Homo sapiens: one gene and its partners. Changing the gene in region 3 together with the main gene of any one other region gives a genetic interaction. Each region holds a gene or a part of one and is shown on either strand. Other genes may lie near its edges.

What was found. A genetic interaction does not mean that the proteins touch.
Region 1: changes in FASN (region 3) and MYLIP together harm fitness less than expected from each alone (positive genetic interaction), as found in Homo sapiens cells (one large-scale study listed by BioGRID).
Region 2: changes in FASN (region 3) and BAG6 together harm fitness more than expected from each alone (negative genetic interaction), as found in Homo sapiens cells (one large-scale study listed by BioGRID).
Region 4: changes in FASN (region 3) and LENG8 together harm fitness more than expected from each alone (negative genetic interaction), as found in Homo sapiens cells (one large-scale study listed by BioGRID).

What each region holds. Positions count from the first base shown.
Region 1 is NC_000006.12:16,142,586-16,146,085, reverse strand, and holds part of MYLIP (E3 ubiquitin-protein ligase MYLIP), read right to left. Parts: intron 3,067-3,500; coding exon 2,869-3,066; intron 2,388-2,868; coding exon 2,223-2,387; intron 1,190-2,222; coding exon 769-1,189; intron 1-768. UniProt on the Homo sapiens protein: E3 ubiquitin-protein ligase that mediates ubiquitination and subsequent proteasomal degradation of myosin regulatory light chain (MRLC), LDLR, VLDLR and LRP8. Activity depends on E2 enzymes of the UBE2D family.
Region 2 is NC_000006.12:31,642,662-31,646,161, forward strand, and holds part of BAG6 (large proline-rich protein BAG6), read right to left. Parts: intron 2,944-3,500; coding exon 2,746-2,943; intron 2,538-2,745; coding exon 2,285-2,537; intron 1,969-2,284; coding exon of another isoform or gene 1,942-1,968; coding exon 1,864-1,941; intron 1,754-1,863; coding exon 1,646-1,753; intron 1,534-1,645; coding exon 1,421-1,533; intron 1,317-1,420; coding exon 1,229-1,316; intron 455-1,228; coding exon 168-454; intron 1-167. UniProt on the Homo sapiens protein: ATP-independent molecular chaperone preventing the aggregation of misfolded and hydrophobic patches-containing proteins.
Region 3 is NC_000017.11:82,081,237-82,084,736, forward strand, and holds part of FASN (fatty acid synthase), read right to left. Parts: intron 3,481-3,500; coding exon 3,277-3,480; intron 3,149-3,276; coding exon 2,998-3,148; intron 2,918-2,997; coding exon 2,739-2,917; intron 2,656-2,738; coding exon 2,536-2,655; intron 2,404-2,535; coding exon 2,281-2,403; intron 2,190-2,280; coding exon 1,966-2,189; intron 1,880-1,965; coding exon 1,678-1,879; intron 1,443-1,677; coding exon 1,291-1,442; intron 1,179-1,290; coding exon 1,087-1,178; intron 925-1,086; coding exon 773-924; intron 608-772; coding exon 365-607; intron 117-364; coding exon 1-116. UniProt on the Homo sapiens protein: Fatty acid synthetase is a multifunctional enzyme that catalyzes the de novo biosynthesis of long-chain saturated fatty acids starting from acetyl-CoA and malonyl-CoA in the presence of NADPH.
Region 4 is NC_000019.10:54,455,699-54,459,198, forward strand, and holds part of LENG8 (leukocyte receptor cluster member 8), read left to right. Parts: intron 1-268; coding exon 269-547; intron 548-626; coding exon 627-767; intron 768-937; coding exon 938-1,223; intron 1,224-2,048; coding exon 2,049-2,150; intron 2,151-2,235; coding exon 2,236-2,304; intron 2,305-2,404; coding exon 2,405-2,534; intron 2,535-2,615; coding exon 2,616-2,823; coding exon of another isoform or gene 2,824-3,208; exon of another isoform or gene 3,209-3,500.

The DNA of each region.
Region 1 (3,500 bases), on a different chromosome or scaffold from region 3:
ACTGCTTCTGGGGAAAGGACACAGGGGTCATTTGGTCTTATTAGCTCTGAAATTAGCAGCTTCTGAAGGACTAAGTATTATCTAGAACCAGTTTTACATAAAACCACAGTGACATTTGGCAAACACATCTGAGAAATAAAAACAAATTGAAAAAACTTGTAAGAGGAAATTTAAAATTCTTCTTCATGCAAGAAAGGAAGAAAACTATATGTGAGTTCTCTTTTTCGTGTTAATATTAAAATTAGTTTGACTTGCTAATAAATAACAGCCAACCCATATGCCCTTGAGGCATTTGCAATCATAAAAGGAAATTAATCACCAATATCACAGAGTCAACAACCCATCCATGGATAATTGAGAAGTATTCTTTCCCAAATATCTTAAGTAATAAAGACCATCCTCCTAAGTGTCAGAAAAAGGGAGGCAACTTGAAATAGAGGAAGCAGCCCTGGGCCAGGCCTCAGGAGGCCTGGATTCTTGTCCTCAGGTAAGCCGCTAACTAGATATGTTACCCAGGAATCTCAGCCTCATTTTCAGAACTTGAAAACACTGCATAATTTGGAGTAATTATGTTGTTGAAAATAGTATGCTAATCTAAAATGTTTCTAAAGGGCAATGCCTTTTAGGTCACCAAATACAAAGACCCTTTCCGGGTGAAGATGGGCATTCCCCGTCTGTGCATTAGCGAGCCAGTACCTGGCTCCTACTCCCCGTTAAGAGGAGGGATAGGTGAGGCTGCAGGCAAAAGTGGGCAGCTGACTCCCCTACCTGTAGCTGGGCGGCGCAGCTCTCACAGCACACAGTGTGGCCACAGGGACAGAAGGTGGAGTTGATCTCCTCCTCGCAGCACACCATGCACAGCATGGCTTCCTTCAGCTTGCGTAGCTTCTCCTGCAGCACCCGGGTCTGCTGGCAGCTGAGGCCCTCGCAGCTGCTGCAGTTCATGCTGCTTTCTGAGGACTTCAGAGGCGAGTGTGAAGGGCTCTGGTTGTTTCTTGAAACGAGGTCCACAACGCCAGCATTGTACAGAGCCCTCCTGGCATGGTCATACACCTCCTTTGATGTTCTTTTAATATCAAAGACATATTTCTTGCCAAGGTTAATGTTTTCATTCAGAAACAGAGATGCCAAGTGGCCCTTCAAGTCACGGCTATACTGCATCATCACGGCGCTGGTCACTGTGTCACACCTGCAAGGCAAGATTGAACATCTACTTTAACACCAAAGAGCCTGGCAGCACCCTTATTCGCTGTTGTCAATAAGAACAGAAATGTCAGCAGATGTTTCATAGTCTCGTCTGCATGTATGAAAGTAAGTCCTTCCAGTTTTACGTCTGGTAAATATTCTCAGTGATTACACCTCTGTTTCTCTAACATCTCCTGACATTATGGCTTCCGTAAAGCAGTAAATACAGAGGGCAGTGAGCACGTACCTCCTCCCCAGGACAGACGCTACTGAGTGAAGTTGCTTATGGAAGAAAAAGGGCATCTGCCTGAAGTCTTGGCTTTTAGGTTAGAAATGTCTAAAAATTTCCCATCCTGTTTCACAATTTGTGTATCTATTTTAAAATAAAAAAGTTTAAAGTTGTCTACGACTTAAATTTCTTAGCTTTAATTGTCCAAATACGTGAGTCCAATCACAACTTGGCTTTAAAGTACCCTCTGAAATGAGGGAATCAATATTGCTATTAAAAAATCCTTCCATACACAGTGACGACTCAGGATAGCAGCTCTGCCAGAAAGAAAAGATGATCTGTGCTATCCTTCTCCTGAGCAGTGGAGCAGGCCCAGTCCCTCAGGGTTACCTTTAGGGTAATCAAACTTGGCTTTGAAGCTGAGTCCTAGACTAAGTAAATAATTATCCTCCCAGTTCCCTCATCTTTAACATTAGGGTAATAATAACCCCTTAGGGTTGTTGTATTGATTAAATAGGCATAGAAATCTCCTAACACACTTTGTGTCTAGATTAATGGCATAAGAGAATACGGTAGGAGGTAAGCAGAGAATGTGTTTGTGCAGCTCACACACATGCACCTTCTGTGGGTAAAACAAGACTACATTAATAAGGACTCCACTGCTACTACGGAAACAAAATGTTCAGAATTTCTTAAATTCTGTACTAGACTCATTGACACAACAATCCAAGGAACCGTAGAAACCTGGTTGTCACCTAAAAACCTGAGAGCTGTGGTGCTGAGGTGACCAAGCACACGAGATACGTGCCTGTAGAATGCGTGCGTCTCTGTTATCGCTCGGTAGAGCCCGCTGGCCGCCCTGGTGCTGATCATTTTAAACAAGAGCACGATGCTGTTCCCAGATTCCTTGGTGACCGTCAAATATACATTCTTTCCTGACTGGGTGGCCATCTGCACCACAGGATAAGCTATCCTAAGAGACAGGAAGAGAAAAGAAAGCAGATCTAGAAGGAGTGATTCTTCACCATGTGTGTGCCTTTGTGGGATCCCCATTTGCTCATGACCTAGCAGAAAAATCAGACGCTTCCTCTGGGGTTATCACATCACCATAATGCTGCCTTATTGTAAAGATACAGTGAAAAGCAGTTGGGCATATGTGGAGGGAAGTATGGGAGCAAGTGCTGGGTGTGCGCACATGCATGTCTAGAGCTGAAAACAAGTTTTTTATGGCAGTGAATGGGTTATTTGGAAAACGTTAACTCTGCCACATTGTATACCTTGAATAACATTTAAAATGGTTATTTAGGCCTGAATAAAATTAATGTACATACCAAAATGAAATCTTTCATTCCTAAGAGCTGACTGTCGAGTAAATCCCTTCCTATTTTCTATTACATTGACAGCTACAGATGTATACACATGCTTAGGTCAAAAAAAGTTAAGTCTTGGCTTACCTATTAATTGGGCTAAAGTCATCTTTACAAATTGAGATTCCTTCAGGTCCAACCCCAATGAGCAGTTTCTGCCCTTCGCTATCCCGCACAGAATGCCATTCTATGCCATAGTTTTCCATTGCCGACACAATCTGCAAAACTTGGTATTCAGCTGAAGCCTGGCTGGTCCCCTCCAACTCCTTATGTTTTGCAACAATGCTGGAGGACACCAAGAGGACAGAGAATTAAGTATACAGATATTAGCTTTAGAGATAAACCTATGTAGTCTTCACGAGTGAAATATACTAACACTGATGAATCACAACAACTTAAAACTTATGTATTACTGATGTTTCATGTATTTAGCGAACTTACTATAAAAAACGTCTAAGACACTGGGATCTCAACTATTAAATACTTGGTAAAAACACTTTGGGGATGCTGGATGGGTGATGAATTGGAAGAATTATGGAAAGTCTCTAAAAATATACATAAGTCAAATTTACATATTGGAAAGTCTCATGCATTTGTCCACATATAGTTTATAAGTATAAAGTTGACCCCTGAGGCCCCTGTGGCCAGGGAAGGAGGTAGGCCAACAAACCACAGGAGTCAACCTGGCATGGAGGCCACCCTCAGTCGAGCCTTCAGAT
Region 2 (3,500 bases), on a different chromosome or scaffold from region 3:
CTTCATCTTTAAAATGAAAGGTTCAGAGTCAATGAATTCCCAGGGCCCCTTCCCCTAACATGTCACTAGGGGCTCTTACCCAGTGGTTATATAATGGCAAGAAGGTACCACTGCCTGGCTGGGCCGGGGGACAGGAAGATGAGGTGAATGGCAAGCCAGCCACTCACCTGCAAGAAGTCAGTCATGCCTTGGAGAAAGGCAGGGACACCAGGCATCGCCACAGTGATGGTGGGAGAAGCCACACCAGACCCTCCAGCCCCTGGCCCTGCAGGCCCTAGCAGGTTCCCCAGAAGCTGAGAGAACTGAAGATCAGCCATGGAGGGTTGAGGGGTGGGTGGAGGCTGGGCAGGCCCCCCAGGAGCGGGGCCAGCTGTGGTAGCTGTGTTGGTGGTGCCAGCACTGGCAGAAGCAGTGGCAGGGGCTGGCGGTGGAGCCATACCTGGGGTCCCCTGAGCTGTAAGAAACCAAAAAAAGAAAGCTGGGCTGAGCATGGTGGCTCTTGGCTGTAATCCTAGCAACTTTGGGAGGCCAAGGCATGAGAACTGCTTGAGCCCAGGAGTCTAGGCCACATAGCAAGACCCCATCTCTACCAGAAAAAAAAAAAGACAATTACTAGCCAGGAGCTAGTACTGCTAGCTACTCAGGAGGCTGAGGTGGGAGAACTGTTTGAGCCCAGGAGTTCAAGGTTACAGTGAGCTTTAACTCACTGGATTGCACCATTGCACTCCAGTCTGGGTGACAGAGCAAGACTCTGTAACTTAAAAAAAAAAGAAAAAAGCTGGCCGGGCACGATGGCTCAAGCCTGTAATCCCAGCACTTTGGGAGGCCAAGGTGGGTGGATCACAAGGTCAAGAGTTCGAGACCATCCTGGCCAACATGGTGAAACCCCCTTCTCTACTAAAAACATAAAAAATTAGCTGGGCGTGGTGGCGTGCACCTGTAGTCCCAGCTACTCAGGAGGCTGAGGCAGGAGAATCACTTGAACCCGGGAGGCAGAGGTTGCAGTGAGCCAAGATTGTACACTGCACTCCAGCCTAGCAACAGAGTGAGACTCCATCTCAAAAAAAAAAAAAAAAAAAAAAAAAGCTGAAACCTGAAGACACAAGACACTACAGCAGCCCCATTCCAGGAAAGCAGGAACCAAGAAAATATGGAAAGAACTGGAAAGTGCCAGTGAGCAGACTAGGAAAGGAGTTTAAACTCTGAGTGGGGAAGAATGAAAACTCACCCACAAGGACTGGCTGCATAAGAAGCTGCCCCACAAGGCCGCTCACCATCTGGGCCAACGAGGCATTGGTACCCAGACCGGCGCCCTGCTGGATAGAGAGCAAGGGAGAATTTCAGACCTGCCCTTCCATGCACCACCACAGGAGTCTCTCCCTAGACTGTTACGCACTAGAACTCCCCGACCCTTGCTCACCAGTGTCCCAGAGACTGGGGGCCCTCCAGGATGGGAAGGCCGAGCCTGTGGAGGAGTGGGCCGGGCAATCACCACCCGGGTTGGAGCTGTTGGGAAGCCTGGCACCTGCTGTCCTGTGGGTGGCAGAAGAGACAGACCGAAGAGGGCTGAGGGCCAGGCCCTTGCCAGCCAGCTGCCACCATGGACTGTGCCCTACCTCCCAAGCCTCCCCTTCCAGGTCATTACCTGCGGCCGCGGAGGCAACAGCTGCCACCATGGCCTGATGAGTGATCTGGTGGGCGACGGCGTGCATGAACTCAGGGGGCAGGGAGGGCAGCTGGATGAGGGTGGAGCCTGGGGGGCGGGTCTGATGTAACCTTGAACCTGGACCCCTTCAACCCACCCACTCAGCCCTTCCCTTTCTCTACCCAGAGCTCAGCCTGCCCTGATGCCCTCACTCTTACCCAGGGTTTGGCCATGACCAGGGGGTCCCAGGGGGCCAGTGGGAGCACTCGGAACACCACCAGGCTGTGTGCCAGAATCTGGGCAGGGAGACAGAGACAGTGGCCCTGAGGTAGGTAGGGCCAAGGCCTAACTATATCCTTCTGAGATCAGGCATACTTCAGGCCCATAATCCCCCAATCAGAAAGCCTGCCTTTCCCTCCATCTAAACAGGGAGAGGTACTCCCTTCACCACACAAACACACCTCCAAAGACAAACCAACCCCCACACCCCCCACATCTGTCTACTTAAGCTTCTGCTCTGGTCCCCAGGCTACCACCACCAGCATGTGCCTCTCCCTTCCCCACCCTGTTCCCTCACACCTCAGCATGAACCTCCCTCATCATGCTGATCCTGCTCTTCTCGCCAGCAACTATTCTCACCTTGAATGTTCATGTGCATCATGACCACGGGTTCCACACTCTGGTGGGAAATCCGGATGACCCTCGGGTGGCTGGTGGCTGGCGGGGGAGCTGGACCTGGCGGGGGAGCCCCCTCAGCTGAGGACTCGACATTGGTAGAAGACGGAGCCACGGATGAGGCCTGCCCAGGACCAGGGGGAGGTGCCTCTGCATTGGGAGTTGGGGGGGGCCGAGTCCCATTTCCTGTCATGGTCACAGTGGTTCCCACATTGATCTGAAAAAGACAGATGGACAGGCAGATGTGAGAAAAATACAAGAGCCTAACCAAGAAAACCTCATGATAAACCTCTAAAGTATCTCCAGCCTTCATCACCATGTTTCCAGTCTCCTCCTTTCCTAACCTCCTTCAGGCCCAGTAGCTACCCTGGGTCACTCTATCAACACCCCTCACTCTCCCTCAGGCCAGACTCCCCCTAACCCACCTGTATGGGAATGGCTGCCTGCTGGAGCACCATGGGGGTGGTGTAGTGAGACATAGGCCGGACCACATGCAGGTGTCGTGGGGGCGTGCAGGCCAGATTGCAGCGCAGGTCAGACAGTGCAACAAAGGTGTTGCCCAGCAGTCGCAGGCTCTCCCCTACCAAGTTGATCAACCGCTGATCCTCCTCCCGGCCCTCGTGCTGCGCACAACCAGCCAAACACAAAAAGGCAGAAAATATCAAGCTGGAGTCCATCTCACTAATAAAAGCAATAATGCCTACTGAGAATACCATGTCCTCCAAAACTTTCAGTTATATCCTTGGAAGTTTACATGTAGACCAAATCTTTGCAAATAAATTATATCTTATTCACATAAGGAACATCCTATTAAAACACTACTATGAATCAGTAAGTCATCATATACTGATCTCCTGTACTTTACATTTTCTAAATTCATTCAGGGGCACAAGGGGTACGATACGAGGACAGTGCTTACAGCAAAGATTATCACCTTCTCTGTAAGGGAGGACAAAATCACTTACAGGTTTAGAGAGAAATTGTTTTGTTGCAATGTGTGTTTTTTTGTTTTGTTTTGTTTTTTGAGACAGTCTCGCTCTGTCACCCAGGCTAGAGTGCAGTAGTGCAATCTCGGCTCACTGCAACCCCCTCCTCCCGAGTTCTAGCGATTCTCCTGCCTCAGCCTCCTGAGTAGCTGGGATTACAGGTGTGCACCACTACATCCAGCTAATGTTTATAT
Region 3 (3,500 bases):
CAGCACCAGGTTGAGCTCACGCTCCAGCGTCTGGCGCACCTCCACGCTCATGAGCGAGTCCAGGCCCAGGTCCGCCAGTGAGCTGTCCAGGTTGACAGCAGCCAAGTCGCGGATGCCTGGAAGGGATGCGCCGGGTCGGCAACTCCAGAGGGGGCATGGGGACGGCCTGTATGCGGCAGGGCTGACACCCAGGGGTGCGTGGGCTGTGCATCTCCCAAAGCACCACCACCACAGTGACACCTGCGCCCGCACCCTGGCTCTGCAGATGGGGAAACTGAGGCGCACAGGGGCACGACTGCTATGTCCCAAGACCCTGATGCCAGCAGGGGAAACACCTGGCGCGGCTCCTACTGGGAGTGCTCACCCAGGATGTGTGCCACGGCCTCCACCAGGTCCCGCTGGCTGTCCCTGTCCCTATAGGCCGCAGCCTTCTCAGCCAGCACAAAGCTGCTCAGGACCATGTGGGGCTGGTTCAGGAAGAGGTCCAGCACCTCCAGGCAGGACGCCATGCGCTGGGGCAGCGTGCCACTGACGATCGTGTCGTTGGTGCTCATCGTCTCCACCAAAATGCCCACGTCGCCGATGGCGCCCCACTGCACGGCCAGGCCTGTGGGGGAGGGGGCAGGTGGGCAGAGCTGCGGGGAGGTCGGGGTGGGGAGTGGCCACTGGGAGAGGGTGGGGTGGGCAGGGCTGCGGGGAGAAGGTGGGGGTGGGGAGTGGCCACTGGGAGAGGGCAGGGTGGGCAGGGTCGAGGGGAGAGGGTGGGGCCCACCTGGGAGGCCTTCGTGCCGGCGTTTCTCACAGATACGCTCCATGGCGGAATTGGCAAAGCCGTAGTTGCTCTGTCCCGCATTGCCACGCCCGCAGCTCACAGAGGAGAAGACCACAAAGTAGTCCAGCTCAGGGCACGCCTCTCGGGTCACCCTGTGGGCACGCGTGTCACTCCCCATTGGCCAGCATCCCCAGGAGCCCCCAACGTCCCATCCCCAGGAAACGCCAGAGAGGGCTGTCAACAAACCACCTTGGCTCCCACGGCCCTGAGCCCAGAGCCCGGCAGAGGCGGGAGCAGGGCTGTGCGGTACCCACCTGTCCAGGTTCAGGGTGCCGCTGTACTTGGGCTTGCAGACGTCCTGGAAGAACTCTGGGGTCTGGTTCTCCAGCAAGCCATCTCTCAAGACCTGGGGGAGGCATCCTCAGCACTCCCTGCAGCTCCAGGGCCTCACCCGTCCACCCAGGGTCCCCCCCTTGGTCTTGGGGCTTTTGAGGGCCCCATTTGGGGCCTTCCCTCACCACGGCCAGGTTGAAGACGCCGCCCACGGGCCCAAGCTGCGCCGCCTCGGCAATGAGGCCCCGGGCCCCCTCCAGTGAGCTGATGTTGCTGGTGGACACCTGCACCTGTACGCCCTGGCGCCTCCACCGGCGGACCTGCTTGGCCTGGTAGCCTGCGGGACACAGGACTGTGGGCTGGACTGGGCCAGGGTACGGTCTCTTCCCTACACGCCGGGCTGGGGAAGTGGGGAGCAGCCGCAGAGCCCCATCCAGCAAGCCCCCCACAAGATGGAGGGGGACAGACCCCAGGCACCGTGACAGCCCACAATGGTGGGCTGCAGAGAAGGGCTCAGGGGCCCGGGGCTGTGCCTGGCCCAGGCTGGTCCACAAGCACCCCTGCCGACTCACCTGTCCGGATCCCGGAGCGAGAAGTCAACACGAGCTTCTGCACCCCACGCTGTATCAGCCACTGCGCCAACTCCAGGCCGAAGCCACCCAGACCACCAGCGATGATGTAGCTCTTGTGGGCCGGGCAGAAGGTCTTGGAGATGGCCGACATCAGCTTGGGTTTGGCCCCCTTCAGCACTGCCTCCGGCTCCTCCGCAAGCACCTGCGTCCAAGCAGCACCCACCGGCTCAGGCACTGCCTGGGGACCAGAGCCTGGGGTGCCCGAGGCGCCGGGACTCCTCCCCTCACCTGCACGACGACTTTGCCAATGTGCTTCCCTTGGGCCATGTAGCGGAAGGCGTCCTCCACCTGGGCCCCATGGAACACCGTGCACTTGAGGGGCCGTACCACCCCATCCCGGATGCCGGCCTGCACAAGCGCCCACACCTCCCGCCAGTCAGCACTGCTCTCGTTGAAGAACGCATCCAGTAGGACCCCGTGGAATGTCACGTTCTTCAGGAAGATAGCCATGCCTGCGGGCAGGGGCCGTGCTCACCCAGGGCCTTCCACAGGTCCACCCACACCCATCCATGCCCACCCCCGCCCAGGCGCTGCCGGCCTCACCGAGCGGGTGGTTCTGAGAAAGGTCGAATTTGCCAATTTCCAGGAAGCGACCGTGCGTAGCCAAGCACCTCACGCTGGCCTGCAGCTTCTCTTCCGCCAAGGAGTTCAAGACCAGGTCAACGCCTAGGGGGCCAGAGGGGCCAGACAATCACACCCACTGCAAGCCCAGCCACCACAGTCCAGAGGGCCAGACCCTGCTTCTCCCTGGGCCGGAGGCTAGGCAGGAGGCAGGTGGGGGCTGTGGGGGCCACTCACCCTTCCCGCCCGTGTGCCACAGCACATGCTGCTCGAAGGATGTGTCCCGGGAGTTGGCGAAGCTGGTGCTGTCGAGCTGGGGGAACCTGGCCTGGAGGTACGCCCGCTTCTCAGCCGACCCTGGTGAAGAGAGGAAGCGCGGCTGGTGAGCCAGGGCGGCGGGGCCAGGAGGGCAGCGGGAGGCACCGGGGGCGGGGCCTTACCCACGGTGGTGAAGACGCGGCAGCCCAGACTGAGGGCGATGGCGATGGCGGCCTGGCCCACGCCGCCCGAGCCCGAGTGGATGAGCAGCGTCTCCCCGGGGCGCACCCGCCCACGCACCACCAGCGCGTAGTAGGCCGTGCTGTAGACGACAGGCACCGAGGCCGCCTCCTCCAGCGTCCTGGGGATGCAGCAGGTGGGTCAGCACAGGCCTGGCCGCCATCCACGTGGGGCCCAGGCTCACACCCTCGACACACTCACCAGTTGGAAGGCACATCCCAGAGGAAGTCCGGTGACAGCAGGACAGAGGTGGCCAGGCCCTTGGCAGGCACCAGTCCCATCACACGCTTGCCGCTGGCGTCTCGGCCCGAGAACTCCATACCTAGCAGGCTGTCCTGGGAGGTCCACTTCCCTGGGGGAGACGGCACTGAGCCCCTCACCGCCTGCCCTTCCCTCCCGAGGGGCTCCCAGGCAGGTCCTAGCTGCTGGGGTCTCTGCTCCCCGGCCCAGTCCACTCCCACGGCCCCATGCCACCCATACCTGGGATGGCATCAGGGGACAGCTTGCCAGTGGCCAGCATGATGTCGCGGAAGTTGAGGGAGGCGTAGTAGACCGTGCAGAGCTGGGCGCCAGGGCAGGTGGGCTGGGCATGGCGCAGCGAGGAGCAGACCCAGCGGATGGAGGACAGGTCCCCCCGGGTGAGGGTGCTCACAAAGGCATGTGCCGTCGGCTCCTCAGGCTTGTCTAGGGAAACAGGGAGGTGG
Region 4 (3,500 bases), on a different chromosome or scaffold from region 3:
GGGGGGATGAAGTCCTGGTTGGAGGGAGGCCGGTGGGGTGGGGTGGGGACCATGGGTGCTGGAGAGGCGTGCATTGCTCAGTGGTTAAGCGCACCCTCTGGAGACGGAAAACCTGGGTTCGCGTCTCATTTCTGCACTGTAGTAGCTGAGCCGCCTGGGGTAAGTGCCTTTCCTTTCGGAGGCGGGTCGGTACCTTGAGGGAGGTGGTGGCGGCTGTCCTGCCAGTGTCTGGCGGGGTTGGTGACGCCCTGCCCTGCTGTATTCTCAGGCTGACCCGGGAGCCTGTGGCTGAGAGCCCTAAGAAGAAGCGGTGGGAGGCCGCTAGCAGCCTTCACCCTCCTAGAGGGGCAGGCTCGGCGACAAGGGGCGGGGGTGCCCCGTCCCAGCGAGGGACGCCCGGGGCTGGGGGTGCCGGTCGAGCCCGGGGCAACAGCTTCACCAAGTTTGGCAACCGCAACGTCTTCATGAAGGACAACAGCTCTTCTTCCAGCACAGACTCCCGCTCCCGCTCCTCCTCCAGGTCCCCGACGCGCCACTTCCGCAGAAGGTACTGAGGCTCCCGGCTGGGGCTGTGTGTGAGGGAGGGGGAGGCGTTTCAGGCCTGACCCTCCTGCTTCTTCCTGCAGTGACTCCCACTCAGACTCCGACAGCTCCTACTCAGGGAATGAGTGTCACCCTGTGGGCCGCAGGAACCCGCCCCCTAAGGGCCGGGGCGGTCGAGGGGCCCATATGGATCGGGGCCGAGGCAGGGCGCAGCGTGGGAAGAGGTGAGACTGTGTGAGGGCTCGACACACGGGCCAGGGTGGAGGAGGGTACTGGGGACCCATGGGAGAAGGAGGAGGAGGGCCGGACAGGTGGACAGCCAGCTGCCAAAGGGGCGAGGCTGAAGGGGGGCTGGAGACGCCTGTCGCGCTCACTGCCCCTCATCCCTTCCTAGGCACGATCTGGCGCCCACCAAGCGCAGTCGAAAGAAGATGGCGGCGCTGGAGTGTGAGGACCCGGAGCGAGAGCTGAAGAAGCAGAAGCGGGCAGCCCGCTTCCAGCACGGACACTCCCGCCGCCTGCGCCTCGAGCCCCTGGTGCTGCAGATGAGCAGCCTGGAGAGCAGTGGGGCTGACCCTGACTGGCAGGAGCTGCAGATCGTGGGCACCTGCCCTGACATCACCAAGCACTACCTGCGCCTCACCTGTGCCCCCGACCCGTCCACCGTGCGCCCTGTGGCAGTAAGTGCCCAGCAGGGCAGTTCTGCTCTGTGAGGCCGTGCTGGCTCAGGACTTGGGGAGCCAACCCAGGGAGGGTGGCAGAGGCCACACGGGGGCTCTGGTATGGCAGGGGAAGCTCGGCCAGAGACGCCTCGGCTGGTCGGCATTCTGAGAGGAGCGCAAAGGCGCTCTGCTGCCCTGGAGCCCCGCGTGGCGGGTGTGCAGCTTGGCCGGCGAATCGCTTGACCTCTGGGCCGTGGTTCCTGGCTTAGGTGACACGGAGCATAAAGCCTTCTCCCAGGCCCGTGGGCTGTGGGGCGTGGGGGGCTGTGTTTCCAGTGTTTGGCGTAGTCACTGTTCTGCTGCAGAACCTGTGAACAGCCATGTGCTTATAGGGAAATGGGTGTGGAGGTGGCCACTCTTAACCCATGTCTTGTGGGTTTGTTTTCTCTTTTTTTGGGAGAGAGTCTGGCTCTGTCGCCCAAGCTGGAGTGCAATGGCGTGATCTTGGCTCACCGCAGCCTCCGCTCCCCGGCTTCAAGCGATTCTCCTGCCTCAGCCTCCCTAGTGGCTGGGATTACAGGCGTCTGCCACTACGCCTGGCTGATTTTTGTATTTTTAGTAGAGACGGGGTTTCACCATGTTGGCCAGGTTGGTCTCAAACTCCTGACCTCAGATGATCCACACACCTCGGCCTCCCAAAGTGCTGGGATTACAGGCGTGAGCCACTGCGCCTGGCCTTTTTTTTCTTTTTTTAATGTTGCAACTCTCCCACCAAATAAGTGGAAGCCGTTGGCCACGCTACCTGAGTTGTACTCCGAGTGTGAATTCAGTTCCCTTTTTCAGGTTTTGAAAAAGTCGCTGTGCATGGTCAAGTGCCACTGGAAAGAGAAGCAGGACTACGCGTTTGCCTGCGAGCAGATGAAGTCGATCCGGCAGGATCTGACGGTGAGACTCGCGCTGGGAGGGGCCTGGCCTCAGCCAGTCCTGCCTCCCGCTCCTTGTGACTCTTGTTCTCGCCCCGCTGCCCCAGGTGCAGGGCATCCGCACCGAGTTCACGGTGGAGGTGTACGAGACCCATGCCCGGATCGCCTTGGAGAAGGTGAGCTGGCCTCTGCGGGCCTCCCCAGCCCCTTTCCTGCTGCCGTTCTGCCCTCAGCACCCTCACTCTGCTCTCCTCCCTCGGTGCCTCTGCCTTCCAGGGTGACCATGAAGAGTTTAACCAGTGCCAGACGCAGCTCAAGTCGCTGTACGCCGAGAACTTGCCTGGCAATGTGGGCGAGTTTACTGCCTACCGAATCCTCTACTACATCTTCACCAAGAACTCGGGAGGTGAGGCCCAGTCCCCAGGACAGAGGCCATGGTACCCAGGGTTGAGCCCTGCTGACTTCACCCTCTTTGTCTTGGTGCTAGACATCACCACGGAGCTGGCATACCTCACACGAGAACTGAAGGCAGATCCTTGCGTGGCCCACGCCTTGGCATTAAGGACAGCCTGGGCCCTGGGCAACTACCACCGCTTTTTCCGGCTCTACTGCCATGCACCCTGCATGTCTGGCTACCTCGTGGACAAGTTTGCAGATCGGGAGCGCAAGGTCGCCCTCAAGGCCATGATCAAAACGTATGTGGTGCCAAGCTCCCTTCTGCCTTTGCTCTTCCCATCCTTCCGCCTCGCACCGCCCCTCAGACCAGCTCCTGGCCGCAGGCCTCCCCCAGCCCCCAACCCTTGTCCTGGTCCTTGCTTCCCCATCATCTTTCTCCATTCAGCCCTCCCCTCTCCAGTTCCTCTTGCTCTCCTTGTTGGTCACCTCTGTGTTCCGGGTCACTCCTCTCCCTCTCCCCACTGTTCCCAGCTCACTGCCTCTGGGGCCTCTTCTCCACCCCATCTGTGTGTCTCTTCCTCCTGTTCTCTCCTGCCTGGACCCCCTAGTTCACTCCTTGCCCTGGGCTTCCTCAGAACCCTGAGGTCTCTGCTTTCTCAGCTTGTCGCTGTGCTCCCACCATAGAGACCATCTAGACAGCCTCTGGTCTACCAGGACAAGGCCCAGTCCCACTCAGCTCCTTTGAGAGCACCAGAAACGCTTAGGGAGACACCTGTGTTGAGGCCACACTGGGCGCGGTGCCAGAGGCCCCTGGTCAGGCCATGCCCCTGCAGTGTCCTTCGTTCACTAGACATTGCGCCTGGCTTGCTGTGGGTGGGGATGAGTTGCTTGACTCATGTTTAGACGCATGGTTCTGTCTGGTGATTGAGGTGCCCAGGCGACGCTGGGCAATGTCAAGAGAGGTTTTCGCTTGTCA